2 separate regions of the Homo sapiens genome follow, and region 2 is linked to region 1. The links come from fine-mapping of genetic effects on gene expression. Tissue or cell type: lung. Region 1 holds a variant in brackets; the other region holds the start of a gene. All regions are shown on one strand. Distances are from middle to middle.

What was found. PIP is the estimated chance that this variant, and not a neighbour inherited with it, causes the effect. A credible set is the group of variants that fine-mapping cannot tell apart.
Region 2: it holds the start of SLC10A5, and the variant in region 1 is the best candidate, but not a certain one, in a credible set for the expression of SLC10A5 in lung (TOPMed, PIP 0.90).

What each region holds. Positions count from the first base shown.
Region 1 is chr8:81,603,353-81,611,602 of GRCh38, forward strand. It overlaps the pseudogene IMPA1P1. Among named protein-coding and RNA genes, the nearest start is that of FABP12, 74 kb to the left of the region's middle. The variant T/C (reference allele first, on the strand shown) is at 4,146.
Region 2 is chr8:81,690,667-81,698,670 of GRCh38, forward strand. SLC10A5 (solute carrier family 10 member 5) reads right to left here and starts at 4,392. Exons shown (of 1, transcript NM_001010893.3): 1 at 2,965-4,392. The coding sequence starts at 4,306. The coding sequence ends at 2,990.

The DNA.
Region 1 (8,250 bases):
ATCACTGTAACTTATAGTAAACTTCACAATCATAAAAAAGTAATCTATTATTAGTGTAGACTATTCTGGGCAGAATGACGGTCATCTGAAAAGGCTCAGAGGAGGCCAGTGAAGAGCTAGTGTTCCAGTTTGGTTGGACAATTGAAACATGACTTATGACAAATTGGATATGAAGACTAGGGAAAGAGAAAACTCAAATATATTAGGTGCTAATTTGAAAGGGCCGAGGTGAATGCTGCAGTATAGTAGTAGAAAAGCATGAGCAAAAAATAGAAATATATTGAACAGATCAAGTATGGGCAGGAGATGCAGGGGGAGAATTCAGATGGGAAATATGGGCTGTAGGTCAAGACTGGGGAGTCAGTAGAAAGGATGTGATGGTTGAAATCATGGGGCTTGCATGGGTCTCCTCAGAGTGACTTGACAGTCAGAAGGTAAACCACCAAGGAGAGCACTCTACAGAACTGTATTATCACCAGAGAAGAAAAGTCAGCAAAAGAAACAAAGAAAGGAACAAAGAACATTTCAACATGGGATTTTTTTTTAAAACAAAACAAGCAAGGGGGAAGGACTGAAGAGAGGTTAAGTTCAAAGCAGAAACAATTTGGCTTCTGTAAATTATTAGGATATCGTTGGTGATATCAAAATGTGCAGAACCATTGGAAGTTAGAGCTTCAGCCAGATTGCAATCATCCACATTATTGCGTGTAACTGGAGTCTATTTTTTCATTGCTACAGAACATTCTTCATGTGATTAGACCACATTTTTTAAAAAAAATCCATTCTGTTGGCCAAGGATGATTAAGATATTTATTGGTGGCTGGGCGTGGTGGCTCATGCATGTAATCCCAGCACCTTGGGAGGCCGAGGCAGGTGGATCACGAGGTCAGGAGTTTGAGATCAGCCTGGCCAACATAGTGAAACCCCACCTCTACTAAAAATACAAAAATTAGCTGGGCATGGTGGCGCACACCTGTAGTCCCAGTTACTCAGGAGGCTGAGGCAGGAGAATCACTTGAACCCAGGAGGCAGAGGTTGTGGTGAGCTGAAATTGCGCCACTGCACTCCAGCCTGGGCAACAGAGTGAGACCCTGTCTCAAAAAAAAAAAAAAAAGAAAAAAGATATTTATTGGTATTTACTGGCCAGGTTGGTGTGAGACAGAGGAAATTGCAAGTCATACTTGTCTGAAAAATGTCATCTATTCTCTTACTTAAAGGCTGAATGGAATCCAGTTACAATGAAATTATATAAGGATTTGGGAGGAAACCAAATAGTTGAATATTAATAATAATGCATAATTTGCCAACATAAATCAGCATCAACATCTTTGAAATGTGACTATTGAAATGAGTAAAATGTTACACTGTATCTAAATATATCAGATATCTGATGAGAGTGCTTTTTGGGAACAGTTTCTTCTCTCTTAGGGAGTTTAAAGCAAATTAAAATACATACCTTAACTAAGTGCTTTGGAAAATATATTTATCGCAGAAATGCCTACAATAAGCAACTCTATCTGGCAGTATGTTAATGTGAAATATACAAAATATAACTAGACTGTTTTTACTTCAAAATTCACATCATCATGAAAAATACAGCAAAAGTACAGAATGGTGAGCTCATTATGTATCTACTCTATATAATAACTAGGAATTGATGACTTCAAAATATTCATTCTTACAATGTTTAATTTTGATTGCTAACTGACAAGCACGGTGCTAGGTGTTATATGAGCACTGAATAAAACAAAAAAGTTTCTCTGCAAAGAAAAAAACCTTGGTCTAGGAAGTACTCAATATATCCTTACAAATTTAAATATGGCTTTTGAAACCAAACAATTTTTTTTTCCAAATAGGTAACTTTCTAAGCGAGTGTCTAGGCATACATATATATAGCAAGTCAAAATTTCAGACCATTGATACTCAGAAATGCAAAATTGCTAACTATTTCAGTTGATGTTATACTTATTTCATCAACTATACTTTTTGTGTATTTTTCCTAAAGCTCTTACATGCAATTTTTTTAAACAATGAAGTAAACATCATGTCTATTCTTGCAAACCTAGCCATAGTAAAATATGAAACAAGTTCAAAATTCTTAATCTGGACAAAGACAATTTAAACTAAGCATATAATACATCTGAAACACGTATCCACAGTGAGTCAGCAAATCTGGGGAAAAGCAACTGTGATTGACTATGAGGCTGCTGTAATTAATCTTCATCATCTCATTGAAAAGGTGCTACCTGAATTTCTTTGGCTATCCTTTCTGCTAATGCTGTACAATTTGCAGCAATTATTCTCCGTGACATTAAATGGAATGGTCCACCTAAAACAAATCAAGTATGGTAAATAGTTATATCTGGTACAAAAATAATTTATATCAAACAAGTACAGCAATGTGCACTATGGTCAATCACGACATTTTAATACTTTCAGTTTTCTTTTAAAAATCTACTGTCACATAACTACAATGTTTAAGCTTTGGCAATCCATAGCTGAGTTTCTAAGTATATGTTTTTTAAAATACCAGTTTTTTGGTATTTACTGGCAAGGTTGGTGGGGGAGAGAGGGAGTCTCAAGTCATGCTAGTCTGAAAATGTCATCTATTCTCTATTTCTTTGTTTGTGTGTGTGTGTGTGTATATACACTGTTATTACCTCTTTACTGTTTAAGAATCTATGGACAGAAAATGTGACTCCAATTAATTTTCATACCACTATCCTTCCCATTTCCTTATTTCTTTGTTGCCTTTCTCTCAGATCACTGGTGAATTCTTTGAACCCAGGTTCACTCTTCACTTCAAAAATTTCACCATCAGCTCAAAGCAAATATTTAACTTCTCTAGTCCCAACACAGAAGGTGATGGTGGAGGACTGAAGTCAATCATCAACTATCACAATGGTCAGCATTCAAAGAACTCTAAATACAAGCCTCAGAGTCAGTGACTCTCTAGGCTTTCTCAACAGCCTTTCAGGAGTTCCTATTACTCACATTTGAAAAGGCTTAGCCATTTATCACTATCAGTCCCATATTGCCATTAGTTCTCATCCTTGCCTCTATCTCCTAATGTTTATTTTGATTTTGCACAAAATTATATAGCCTGTTTGTCTTAAAATCCAAGCTATCATATGTATCAAACTTTTTTTAAACTCCATATACAGAGGAAAGTCCAAGAGATGTAAAGGGAAAAATGATTCACTATCTCATAATTTTACCAGTAACATCCATTAGCACGCCACCAGCTTCAGTAACAATAATGGCAGCTACTGCAATATCCCAGCAGTGAATTCCCATTTCATAAAATGCCTCTGCTCCTCCACTTGCCGCAATGCACATATTAGTAGCTGCTGTTCCAACACTCTGGATCCTCAAAAATAGTATTCAAAAATGGCAGATTGAAAAAATAACCTTTCAAGTAAGGTATTCCTCCTAACTTCAGTTTGAATGTTGATTGAGATAAGTTGAACCAATCTAGAGAATAAATGTAAAAAAAGATGGTATTTAATCTTAAAATAAAAATATATAAAATCCAGTTATCGTGATATACTATATAAATCCCAAAACTAATCCTCACAAAGCAATAATTTAATAAGATAAACATGAAAGCAATAATTTTGCAGAAAAAAAGCCCTAAAAATAATGCTATAATTCTACTATAACAGCATGCAAATATATTCATATTTTTTTAAACCCAAGGCAACCACAGCTTATTTTACACAGATACACACACACATGCACACATACACAATGCACAATAATCTCTAGGGAGCATAAAGTATCATGATATTGATCATTCCCAACTGGATGTGCATCATATCTAGACCTAAAGGGATTGCAACCCACCTGGGTTCTGCACAAACCTAGGCCTCTCTTGAAAGATTACTACAGGTTTTTCCTCTCATAGCACCTCTTCCTTGAAAATACAGCAAGGTAAGATGAATGTGTAAGATATAAGTAAGAATAAGTAAGATACTACTTGATAGCAATTATAGTAATAACTTATTCAGTAAAGAATCATCAGCCGGGCGTGGTGGCTCACACCTGTAATCCCAGCACTTTGGGAGGCCAAGGTGGGCAGATCACAAGGTCAGGAGACCGAGACCATCCTGGCTAACACGGTGAAACCCCATCTCTACTAAAAA[T/C]ATATATTAAAAAGAATTAGCCAGGCGTTGTTGCGGGCACCTGTAGTCCCAGCTACTCAGGAGGCTGAGGCAGAAGAATGGCGTGAACCTGGGAGGCAGAGCTTGCAGTGAGCCAAGATCGAGCCACTACACTCCAGCCTGGGCAACAGAGCAAGACTCCATCTCAAAAAAAAAAATCATCAATAAATGTTAAAATTAATGGGTAAAAGTTTGATATTTTTGGTATCAAAGTATCTCTCCACAAGATATATAATAAGTACAGTGAGGAAAAAATAGCATTTTTACAATGATCTATCTACCATTACCAAGTAATCAAAGTTAATATCACCCATAATAGGACAAAAAGATACCATGTGCCTCCTGATATGATGCACTGAGAAGTACAGAACATTACTTCTGTGACATTCCTGCCAAAAATTCATAATCCAAATGTAATCATAAATAAACTAGACAAATTCAAATCAAGAGATAGACCACGAAATAATTGGCCTATACTTTTGAAAAATGTCAAGGTCATAAAAGATAAAGAAAGACCAAGCAAGTTATAAATTAAAGGAAACTGAAGAGAAATGAGAACTAAATGCAATCAATGTATGAGTCTGGATTGGACATTGGGTTAAAATTTTTTTCAAAATTTGAATAAAGTCTTTATATTAGATTATGTATCAATGTTAATTTCCTGACTTTTATAATTGTGCTGTGGCTGTGTTAGACAATGTTCCTTTTTATTAAAGAAATACACACTGAAATGTGTTTTTAGAAGAAAAAGATCATTATGTCTGCAAGTTAATTGCAAATGGTTTCTATTCAAACTCCTTTTGTGACTGTTTAAAGCTCTGGAAATAAAGCAGTGGGTTCTATTTACCAAGATCTTTCCCAGTTTATTTTTTTAAAAAGTAATGATAAATTGATTACAAATGTGGTATTTATTTTGTATTGTATTGTAAAAAATATTGCACCTAAGTACATCCTTCATCTCAAAGGGACTTTTTAAAAAAAGGATTAGAATGATATAATGTCTTTGATTTGGAATTTTTTCCTGCCTATGTTTTTGCTGCACATCTAATTTAAGAAAGAACTAGGAGGTGCAATAAATTTCCAAGATGTTTGTTTCCCAAATGCATGAAATCAAATTAGCTTTTGTGGCATTTTTTCAGTTATAAAGAAAGATGTGTTTCTCCCCTTTTCATATGAGATATGTGATAGCTGATATCTCATATTATAGAAAGCAAAGACCAAGATCTTCTACAAGTAATCCCTTAGTATTCTATTCAGAGAATCCTAGGCTAGCAGAACAACAGTGATAGCAACTAGTGGTGCTTCCATCACTTCTAATGCACATCATGGGATCTCAGGCAAGGAGTCTTGTAGTCAGCTAGAGCATATATTTTGTGAGCAAATATTACCAAAGAGATTACTTATATTACCAGGTAATTAAGGCTATGGTATAGATTCTACAATGTGCCTTCTGAATCCTATCTTAATCTGATCCTCCTATACAGCTAATAGGGTATATCATAAAAAAGCCTATGTTTGGGGTCACAAAGAGTTGAGTTTGTTCCATGCTCAGCTGCTTAAAAACCCTAATCTGGGCCAGGCATGGTGGCTTATGCCTGTAATCCCAGCACTTTGGGAGGCCAAGGAGAGTGGATCACCTGAGGTCAGGTGTTTGAGATCAGCCTGGCCAACATGGTGAAACCCTGTCTCTACTAAAAATACAAAATTAGCCTAGTGTGGTGGCACATGCCTGTAATCCCAGCTACTTGGGAGGCTGAGGCAGGAGAATTGCTTGAACCCAGGAGGTGGAGGTTGCAGTGAGCCGAGATCACACCACTGCACTCCAGCCTGAGCAACAAGAGTGAAACTCCATCACAAAAAACAAAAAAACAAATCTGGACCAAGTTTCTTCTTTGAGTTTTAGCTTTCTTGTCATCAAATAGGGATACCAATTTGCCTTAGATCACTGTTACAATAACTACAAATAATATTTGTAAAGCACCAAAAGAGTGCCTGCCATATAAAAGATACATAATAAAAAGTAGCTATGTTTATGACAAAATTATTCTCAAAAGATGATGCCAGAAAATATATACCAGGTACATTTCATCTAATTAAATTTTGAAAAATTAAAGGAAATTGAGCCACAATAATTGTTGTCTTAAAAATATTTGTTCCTAGTCAGGAACCTATTAGACTGTTTCTGCTTGTTTAAAGCATTCATTCAGATTATGACTCCCTTTAGTTTCATTGTTTTGTATAAGTAACTCTGAAATCACATTGCTAAACTAAAGAAGCAGCTGAATGCAAAAGATCTTAAATCAATGTCAGAACTTCTCCTTGGTAATATTTCCCTGGTTACACTTCTGAAAAAATCCTGAAGTAAAAATTAGTTTTTACTTTATCCAACAGCAAAATTAAAGGTTAAAATTGTAAACCTCTTGCAGCTCTTTTATGACTAACATAACCATTTTATAGCCCATGGTTACAGTCCTTGCTTCAAGACAGCACACTGTAGCAATAAGTTTATTGCCCTTCCCTCAAGGACATCATTCTGGGAGGTTCTGTAGCTATTTGACAGAGGCTCTCTCTCTTTTGCTTTACTCATTACTATATAGAACAAAGATGTATAGTATAAAATTAGTTTGTACATGGCCAAACTATATTTTTAAGGTCCCGACTCCTAAGAGAAGTCCAATATTGGAGAAAGATAAATGATCTGGGAGCCAGGATTCTAGTCATATTTCCACCCAGCTGTTCGATCTAAGGCAACCACATCACCTCTCTGAGCCTCAGTCGACTCACCTACAAAAAAAGGCTGGATTATTAGATGATCTTTGATCAGGTTTAAGACTCTTATAACTCAGTGATGATATTTTCAAAAGGAAAAAAGGTAGAAACAGTAGGCAGTAAAATATCTGTTATTCAAAACTTAACAGATTTTGTTGAATAACAAAATTTATGATTTTTAATGCAAACAACTACAATAAAGGTCAGAAATTCTATTTAATATAGCATAACTATATTAAAGACTTCAAAACTCTAGCTTTTCTTGAAAATGTAAACATAAAAGTAAGGATAGATATTTGCTTTTAATTTCTTCATTTATGAAACTGATTACAGAAGGACTCTGAGGTTTAGAAAGGAATAGTGGCATGCTGATTTTGAAACTCCCCATTACCCACCTGAAAAATAAAATTAAATAAAATCAAAAAGGAGGACAAATAAAACACACAAGACCTATTCCTTCAGCATTTCTAGGAATCGGAAAATACAAATCTCAAACTACCTGTAAGCAGAAGAAAGAGCAAACAAACTAATTCTAACACAGCATTCCTAGCCTGTGGATACACGGAGTGGAGGAGAAGAGGCAGAAAAGACTTTGTGAGGGAGAGCAGGGAGGAGCCAAGGACCCACAGGGAACACAGAAAAAACCACCCTCAGAAACGAGTATAAGTGAGACAATAAATGCAAAGACACTGAGCACAGATCAGCCCTTGGTAATTCACAGTCCAGCTACCTCGGGGAAACTGTGATTTTGGAGGAGAATCAGATAAGACAGAAGAGGTGGTACCTCTTGGAGACCAAGTATTCAAAGAAAAGTTGGGACTAAGATTGAAAAATTAAGGATCCTGCAGAAATCAATGATAAGCAAGACAAGCCAACCCTGCCTACCACAACCACTCAAAAGATATCATAAAGGAAACTACACAGAAGGGCAGAACTGACAAAATACAGAGCTCTGAACCAAGGAGCCCTGATAACAAAATGAATCAAAATAGAAAAAAGTAGAGCACATCCCCACAAGCCTGCAAAACATCAGACATTGCTAATAAAAATGGGTTTCTTTTTGTTTGAAGTCTCTCCAGAAAACCAACATTGTGAACAGTGAGAACACATGGACAAGGGAGGGGAATATCACACACTGGGGCCTGTCAGGGAGTGGGGGATAAGGGGAGGGAGAGCATTAGGACAAACACCTAATGCATGCGGGGCTTAAAACCTAGATGACAGGTGCAGGAAATCACCATGGCACATGTATACCTATGTTAACAAACCTGAACATTCAGCAAATGTATCCCGTAACTTAAATTTTTTTTAAATTGCT
Region 2 (8,004 bases), 87 kb after region 1:
ATCATTTAAATATGCATAATGTAACAAAAATAATAATAGGGCTTACCATGTGTCAGGCATTCTTATGAGGACCTTGCTCATATTAATTCACTTAATCCTCACAATAATACCACGAGGTAGGTACTACCATTATCGCCATTTTCAGCATGAATTTGGGCATAGAGAAATCAAGTAACTTGACCAAAATGTTCCCCAGCTGGTAAGATGATGGAGCTAGAAGTGCAGCCCAAGAGGTCAGGAGTTCAAGACCAGCCTGGCCAACATGGCGAAACCAGATACAAAAATACAAAAATCTCTACCCAAAATACAAAAATTAGCTGGGCATTGTGGCAGTCACCTGTAATCCCAGCTACTCAGGAGGCTGAGGCAGGAGAATTGCTTGAACCTGGAAGGCAGAAGTTGCAGTGAGTGGAGATCATGCCACTGTACTCCAGCCTGGGTAACAGAGTGAGCCTCCGTCCCCCCGCCCAAAAAAAAAAAAGAAAAAAAAAAAAAACAAGTCAGCCAGGCACGGTGGCTCAGGCCTGTAATCCCAGCACTTTGGGAGGCCGAGGTGGGCGGATCACCTGAGGTTGGGCGTTTGAGACCAGCCTGACCAACATGGAGAAACCCCATCTCTACTAAAAATACAAAATTAGCCGGGTATGGTGGCGCATGCCTGTTGTCCCAGCTACTCAGGAGACTGAGGCAGGAATCGCTTGAACCTGGGAGGTGGAGGTTGTGGTGAGCCAAGATCGCACCATTGCACTCCAGCCTGGGCAACAAGAGCAAAACTCTGTCTCAGAAAAACAAAACAAAACAAACAAACAAACAAAAAACCCAAAACATTATGTAAGTTAAATTTGTACAAATGTAATTCTATTTTAAACCTATAGTGGATATTTCAGTTTAAAGGAGTAAAATATTCTACATACACAATTATCACTTTATAAACCAAATAAACATCTATCATGTCTATTTGGTTTATATCAGATTTTATACAAATTTTGGTAGTCATATACTGGATTTGGTGGCATTTAAAGAAAAAAGAACCTTGGTTATCTTATCAACTGGCAAAGTAAACAAAAATTCTCTAATTCTATGATCAAGATGGTGAATAGTACTGATAGAAAATGTTGAAAGTTTTAGGCTCCATACATAGTTATACGATTGCTATTTCAAACTAGCAGCAGATCTACCAGGGTTGAAAGTTAAAACTGATAAAACAATAGCACTTACTATGTCCCAGGCACTCTTCCAAGCACATTACATGTATACTCTCACTTAATTCCTAGGACAATCTATGGAGTTGACACCATTAGCTTCATTTGTTAAATGAGAAAACTGGACTATAAGAAGATCAAAGAATTTGCCATAAGGCTAGGAAATAGGGAAAGCAGGATTATTTAGAGTGATATTTCCTATTCTCGATCCCACACTTTCTTGCACAAGATCGTAGACTTGCCCTAGATAATAAAAATTTTCACTGAAGATTAAAAGGAGGTTTTTGAAAAGCACACTATTTATTTGGACACTAGTCTGTGCTTCAACACATTATTTGAATAAGCACACAGAAGATACTGTGTTAGATGTGATAGGGAATATCAAAATGAATAAACATAGTTATTATGCTCAAAGACTTAGAGCAAAATAGGAAAATTAAAACAGGACACAAATAGTCATAAAACAAGCCAGGTTAGCTGGAATGAACAATACTCATAACATACTAAGTCATTCTGTTTGGGTAAAAGACTATGTGTAACGAGGTGAGAGAGGAGATATAATGAAACTGGGAAACTGGCTGGGCGTGGTGGCTCAAGCCTGTAATCCTAGCACTCTGGGAGGCTGAGGCACATGAATCACAAGGTCAGGAGTTCAAGACCAACCTGGCCAAGATGGTGAAACCCCGTTTCTACTAAAAACACAAAAATTAGCTGGGAGTGGTGGCAGGCGCCTGTAATCCCAGCTACTGGTGAGGCTGAGGCAGGAGAATCACTTGAACCTGGGAGGCGGAGGTTGCAGTGAGCCGAGATCACACCACTGCACTCCAGACTGTGTGACAAAGTGAGACTCCTTCTCAAAAAAAAAAAAAAAATAATAATAATAAATAAAACTGGGAAGCTAGGTTAAGGTCAGACAGTAGAGTATAATAAATGCCTCATTAAGAAATACAAATTCATTTAAAAAGCAAAAAGTCTTCATTGCTGGGAAATTATATGGTCAATGTTAGATTTTAGGAAAATTAATCTGACAGTGAGTAGAGGGTGGAGAGACAGGCCAGAAGCCAATTTAGAAAGGTTTAGGGAAGAAGCAATATAGTGCAGAAAAAAGTGATAGCACTGAGAATTGAGAAGAGCACTGGCAATTGAATTACAGGCTGTTTCTGTAGGAAATACATTCACTATAAAGAAAGAAAGAAAGAAGACAGAAGAGAGATGAGGTTGAAGAGCTGACCCTGTGTTGTGGGGTAAACAGTAATGCCTTTGGTGGGTTAACATGGAAGACAGGAGAAAGCTTAGCTCTGAGGGCAGAGATGCCACATTTACTTTAAAACATACTTATTTTGATGTGCTAATGAAATTTACAAATTCATTCACCGAGTGAGAATTTGTCAAATGTCTGCTATCTGGGTGTTCCTTCTTTTAATACTTAGGATATATCATAATCACTAAATAAGTTTTCTATTGCTCTGTCTCATTTAGGAGACCACTGAAAGTATCATATTGACATCATAGCCTATAAAACATTCTCAAACCAACACAGTTGCAAAGTTGTCTCCTTCCTCTGAACTTCTGTATTATCATCTCCACCACTCATTGAGTACTTAGCATATACGAATGTGTGTGTGTGTGTGTGTGTGTGTGTGTATATATATATATGTATTCTCTACCCCCCAATGTCAGATTTTTAATTACATTATAAGTGGCTTAAGAGCAGGTATCATTATAGTTATTCTTTTACTCTCCCACAGTGCCCTACCCAGAGTAGGAATTCAGTAATGCTTTAATTGTTAGATTAGGAAATTTCTTTTCCTTTTATCTTGTAAGAAAAAGATACATCTTTTCTTAGCCTTGTAAACTAGAATGATCAGTAACATTTCACATCCAGAACACATGGCTACTGTAAAAGGAGCCACAGAAGCTAAATTGGCCTTGGACTGTGGAAAAGACAGCTGAATAACGGCAAGAGCTAAGAAACTATTTAACATCCCACTTTCAATAGCAACAGTTTTACAAACAGGAAGAGGCAGCGTACAAACTTTAGCAAAGGAGTACCCAAACAGCAAACCCAAAGCAGGAACTAAGAGACCCAACAGAATCACCTCTAGATTATCTGTTTTTAAGAACACTAATCCCACTGTGAAAGTCAAATAAATTCCTACGAACATTAAAATAAAACTCAGAGGTCTAATTATTCTCTCTAAGAAGCTTGCTTTTTCAGGTATTCTATGCTTGATGACTATTCCAATTGATACTGGCACAAGTATGAAAAGGAGTGTTGACACAATTTTAGAAACAGGAATATGGAATGTACCTGACAACCCTAATATCCTACTGTATATATAAGAATTGACAGGCATCATGATCAGAGCCAATAATGTTGATGTGCAAGTCATCAAAATGGCCAATGTGAAATCTCCATCTAGAAGCAGAGCAAAGAGATAGCCCCCACCCCCTCCTGGGCACGTGCAGGTCATTACAACTCCAAAAGCTTGCGCCTCAGGCAATGCCACAATCTGAGACAAAAGAAACCCGCAAAATGGCATCAGAAAAAACTGTGTAACTGCCCCAAGAATTACTGGCAAAGGTCTCTTCCATACTGTTTGAAACAGCTGTAATTCAATCTTACAACCAAATGCACACTTATTCAATAGTATTAGTGGTAAAATAAGCATTAGGATATTTCTATCAATATGCATTGGTGCCTGGAGTAGACTGTCTTTTTGTTTGAGCACTTTGACTTTCACATTCTTGATTTCTTCAATGAGTCTTTCTTGCCTACCTTCAGAATCCCAGAGTTGAATAGTCACATTTGTTTCTCCTTCTTCATCAGTCACCAGATTTATGGTAAAGTTTGTAGCATCTGATGAGATCTTCTTGGCCACATTCACCATTTGTAGTATTTTAGGATCTTCTATTTTCACAAAGAGGTGGCTGGAATTAGGCCGTTTATTTTCGTAGCTTGAACTTACAAGGATGGTTTCTTCAGTCTTTGTGAAAAATAGTATTTCAGTCTTCTCTATATTCAGAAAACTGAGCGATGACATCCTTGCTTCTTCTATAGTCACAAGCAACAAAAGTAGAACAATAAAAAGTTTTCTAATCATTTTGAAAGCTGAAATAAATCATATATGCAAAATCGTTTTTAAAAAATGAAAGAACATTCTTCATGCAGGTGTTCCAGTGACAGTCTGAGGGTGAGTTAGATAACAGTTGTTTTTGTAGGATCAAAGTCCAGTAGGAGGGACTGCTGTACTTTTAAACAAATATATAGCCATCTAAGCAGCAACACAACCGGTTTAACTTGTGATTAAGACAATTAAAAAGTCATGGCATTTAACAGATTCGATTTATCACAACAGAAATCTAATCTCTTCCTCTTGATTTCCTCATTTCTGCTTATGCGAAAAAAAAAAGCCTCCTATTTACTTGAATTTAAAGCTTAGTGTCATCATTCGTTAGTTATTTCTTGCTAAAAAAAAAAAAATTAAAAGCAGTCAGGATCAAGAAATCTGTAACAGACACTGAGGAAACCTAGAGTTCAGTGTTACCATTTTGTTCAATCAAGTCGAAGTCAAATCAATATTCACTGAATGTCTCTTTGCCTAGGGCATGGAATTGGGAGCTGGCCATCCCATAATGATTAAGCCAGATGCAGTCGCTGCTCTCCTGGAGCTTAGTGGGGTGACCCAATATCACAAGTTAGAAAACTGCAGAGCCCAGACACTGGCCTTGGCAGCATCCCTTGGCTGCTAATAGTTTTCCTGCATCTCTGAAGGATGATTTAATCTGTCAAGCAAAAACTGACACTGTTTTTTGTATACCTAAGTAGGAAAAAAAATTCCTGAATGGTTACCAGATAACTTGGGGACATAGGGAAAGTAGGTAGCTGGTGCCACGGCCAAAGGTACAGGCTGGTTAAGGGACCACAGCTACTGGACACTTGGACCCTGACACGATGGGGCAATGGAAAGACACTGGCATTGATTCTAATCTTTTATTCCTTGTTTGTAACACTACTCTCTGTTCACAGTTAGGGGCAAGGGCATTCAATTGACCCAATTTGGTCATATCCCTTGGTTGCCAGGAATGAGAAAAAGCATCAGGCTTTTTGGATTTCAACCCATAGACTCACACACTTGTATATTTCCCACACAAGGGGTGGGTGTCCTGATGCTAAGCAGCAAACCAACCAGCCGACCAACCAACCAACCAAACGTTTACTATTAAGCCTACAGATGTAGTAGTCTCTGAACACATGACCATTTCAGCAGCTCTTTCATGTAATCATGATGCAATGTGTTCAAGGTAATGCCAATTTGTATTAAGTATTTTAGATCATTTGTTCCTCAAAAATGTGAAACCTTTTTGTCATTTTAACGAGTTTTATAAAAGTATACCATTTATGTCGGTTAATCTTTCAAATGCAGTAGACCTTAGGTCTCATAAATTTTATTAATATGTACCACATTAAGAAAAACAAGATCCGCTGTACCAATGGTGAGGATAGGGAATGGGACTGTTCATTGATATTTCAGTTAAAATTTCCCTATTTTAACTGACAAAAACAAAACAAAAAACAAAAATGTCATAAAACCTAAGTTATCTTTAGTTATGTGACCAAATATCTTGACTCATAACTTTTGTTGCCTAGGTCGAAGATGTGAGTATATCAGTTTTTCTTTCCCCTTAGGACTCTTTCTGCAACCCTTTTAGTTCTTCGGTTTCTCCAGGCCCTTTCATTTGAAAACCGTGAAGAACAAAGCCTGACAAATCTAGGAAAACTTTGATAATCTATCATTCATCTATATAAGTGTTCTTCTAAATTTTCATGGAAAATATGTATTATAAAAAAGTGTGTATGAATTTCAATTTTTTTTTTGCACCAGAATAAACTTTTTGTAACATGTCTGAACAGGATCTAGTGAGGGACACTAACTATGATAAGACATTTAGAAAAGAGCTCTTTTATCAGAGAAACATAAATTCTGCTAAAATTGAAGGAAGAACACACATCAAATTTATGGTGAGGTTTGGGTGGAAGAATGGTGAAATCATTGATGCTTCACATAAAGGTTATGGAGACAATACCCCAAGGAGATCTGCAGTTTACAAATGGATAACTCATTTTAAGAGATGAGACAATGTTGAAGATGAAGCCCGTAGCAGCAGACCATTCACAGCAATTTGTGAAGAAAAAAAGCACAGACAATATCTAATATGGTTTGGCTGTGTGTCCCCACCCAAATCTCATGCAGAAGTGTAATGACAGGAAGTGTTGGAGGAGGGACATGGAGGGAGATGATTGGATCATGTGCATGGCTTCTGATGGTTTAGCACCATCGCCCTAGTGCTGTCCCATGATAGAGTTCTCACAAGATCTGGTTGTTTGAAAGTGTGTAGCACCTCCCTCTTCACTTGCTGTCTCCTGCTGGCCATGTGAAGATGTGCTTTCTTCCCCTTCTCCCATGATTTTAAGTTTCCTGAGCCTCCCAGCCATGCTTCCTGTAGAGCCTGTGGAACTGAGTCAAGCTTCTTTTCTTTATACAGTACGCACTCTCAGGTAATTCTTTTTTGGGAGGACAGAGTTTCACTCTTGTCACCCAGACTGGAATGCAGTGGTGCTCTCTCGGTTCACTGCAAGCTCCGCCTCCCAGGTTCAAGTGATTCTCCTGCCTCAGCCTTGTGAGTAGCAGGGATTACAGGTGTTTGTCATCATGCCCAGCAAATTTTTGTATTTTTAGTAGATATGGGGTTTCACCATGTTGGCCAGGTTTGTCTCGAACTCCTGATCTCAGGTGATCCACCTGTCTTGGCCTCCCAAAGTGCTGGGATTACAGGTGTGAGCCACCACGCCCGACCTCATGTAGTTCTTTATAGCAGTGTGAGAATGGACTAATACAATATCCAACATCATAGATGTCTCAGTTGGTTCAGCTTACACAATGCTGACAGAAAAATTAAACTTGAGCAAACTTTCCACTTGATGGGTACCGAAACTATTGCACCCAGATCAGCTACAGACAAGAGTACTTTTGTTCTCCTGGTGGGTTTTCTACTTAAAATTTCAGTTGTCTTTCAATAAAAATTTTAAACAAGTGGGATCAAGATCCTGAAGGATTTCTTCCAAGAATTGTAACAGGAGATGAAACATGGCTTTACCAGAATAATCCCGAAAACAAAGCACAAACAGAGCAATAGCTACCAAGAGGTGGAAGTGGTCCAGTCAAAATAAAAGTGGACTAGTCAAAAGCAAGGTCATGGCAACTATTTTTTGGGATGCTCAAAGCATTTTTCTTGTTGACTTTCTGGAGAGCCAAAGAACAATAACGTCTGCTTATTATAAAGGTGTTATGAGGCTGGGTACAGTGGCTTATGCCTGTAGTCTCAGCACTTTTGGTGGCCAAGGCAGGAGGATCCATTGAGGCCAGGAGTTCAAGACCAGTCTGGGCAACATAGCAAGACCTATCTCTACAAAAAGAAAAAAAAAATATGAGAATGTTTAGAGACAGCCAAAGTTTTAGCAGAAAAATGCCCAGGTAAGCTTCACCAGAGATTGCTTCTCCACTAAGACAATGCTCCTGCTCATTCCTCTCATAAAACAAGGAAAATTTTGAATTTTGATGGTAAATCATTAGGCATCTACCTTAGGAGGTCTAATTTTGCTTCTTCTGACTTCCTGTTTCCTAATCTTTAAAAAAAAAAAAAAACTTTAAAGGGCACCCATTTTTCTTTAGTTAAGAAACAGACTGCATTAACATGATTAAATATCCAGGACCATCAGTTATTTTGCAATGGACTAAGT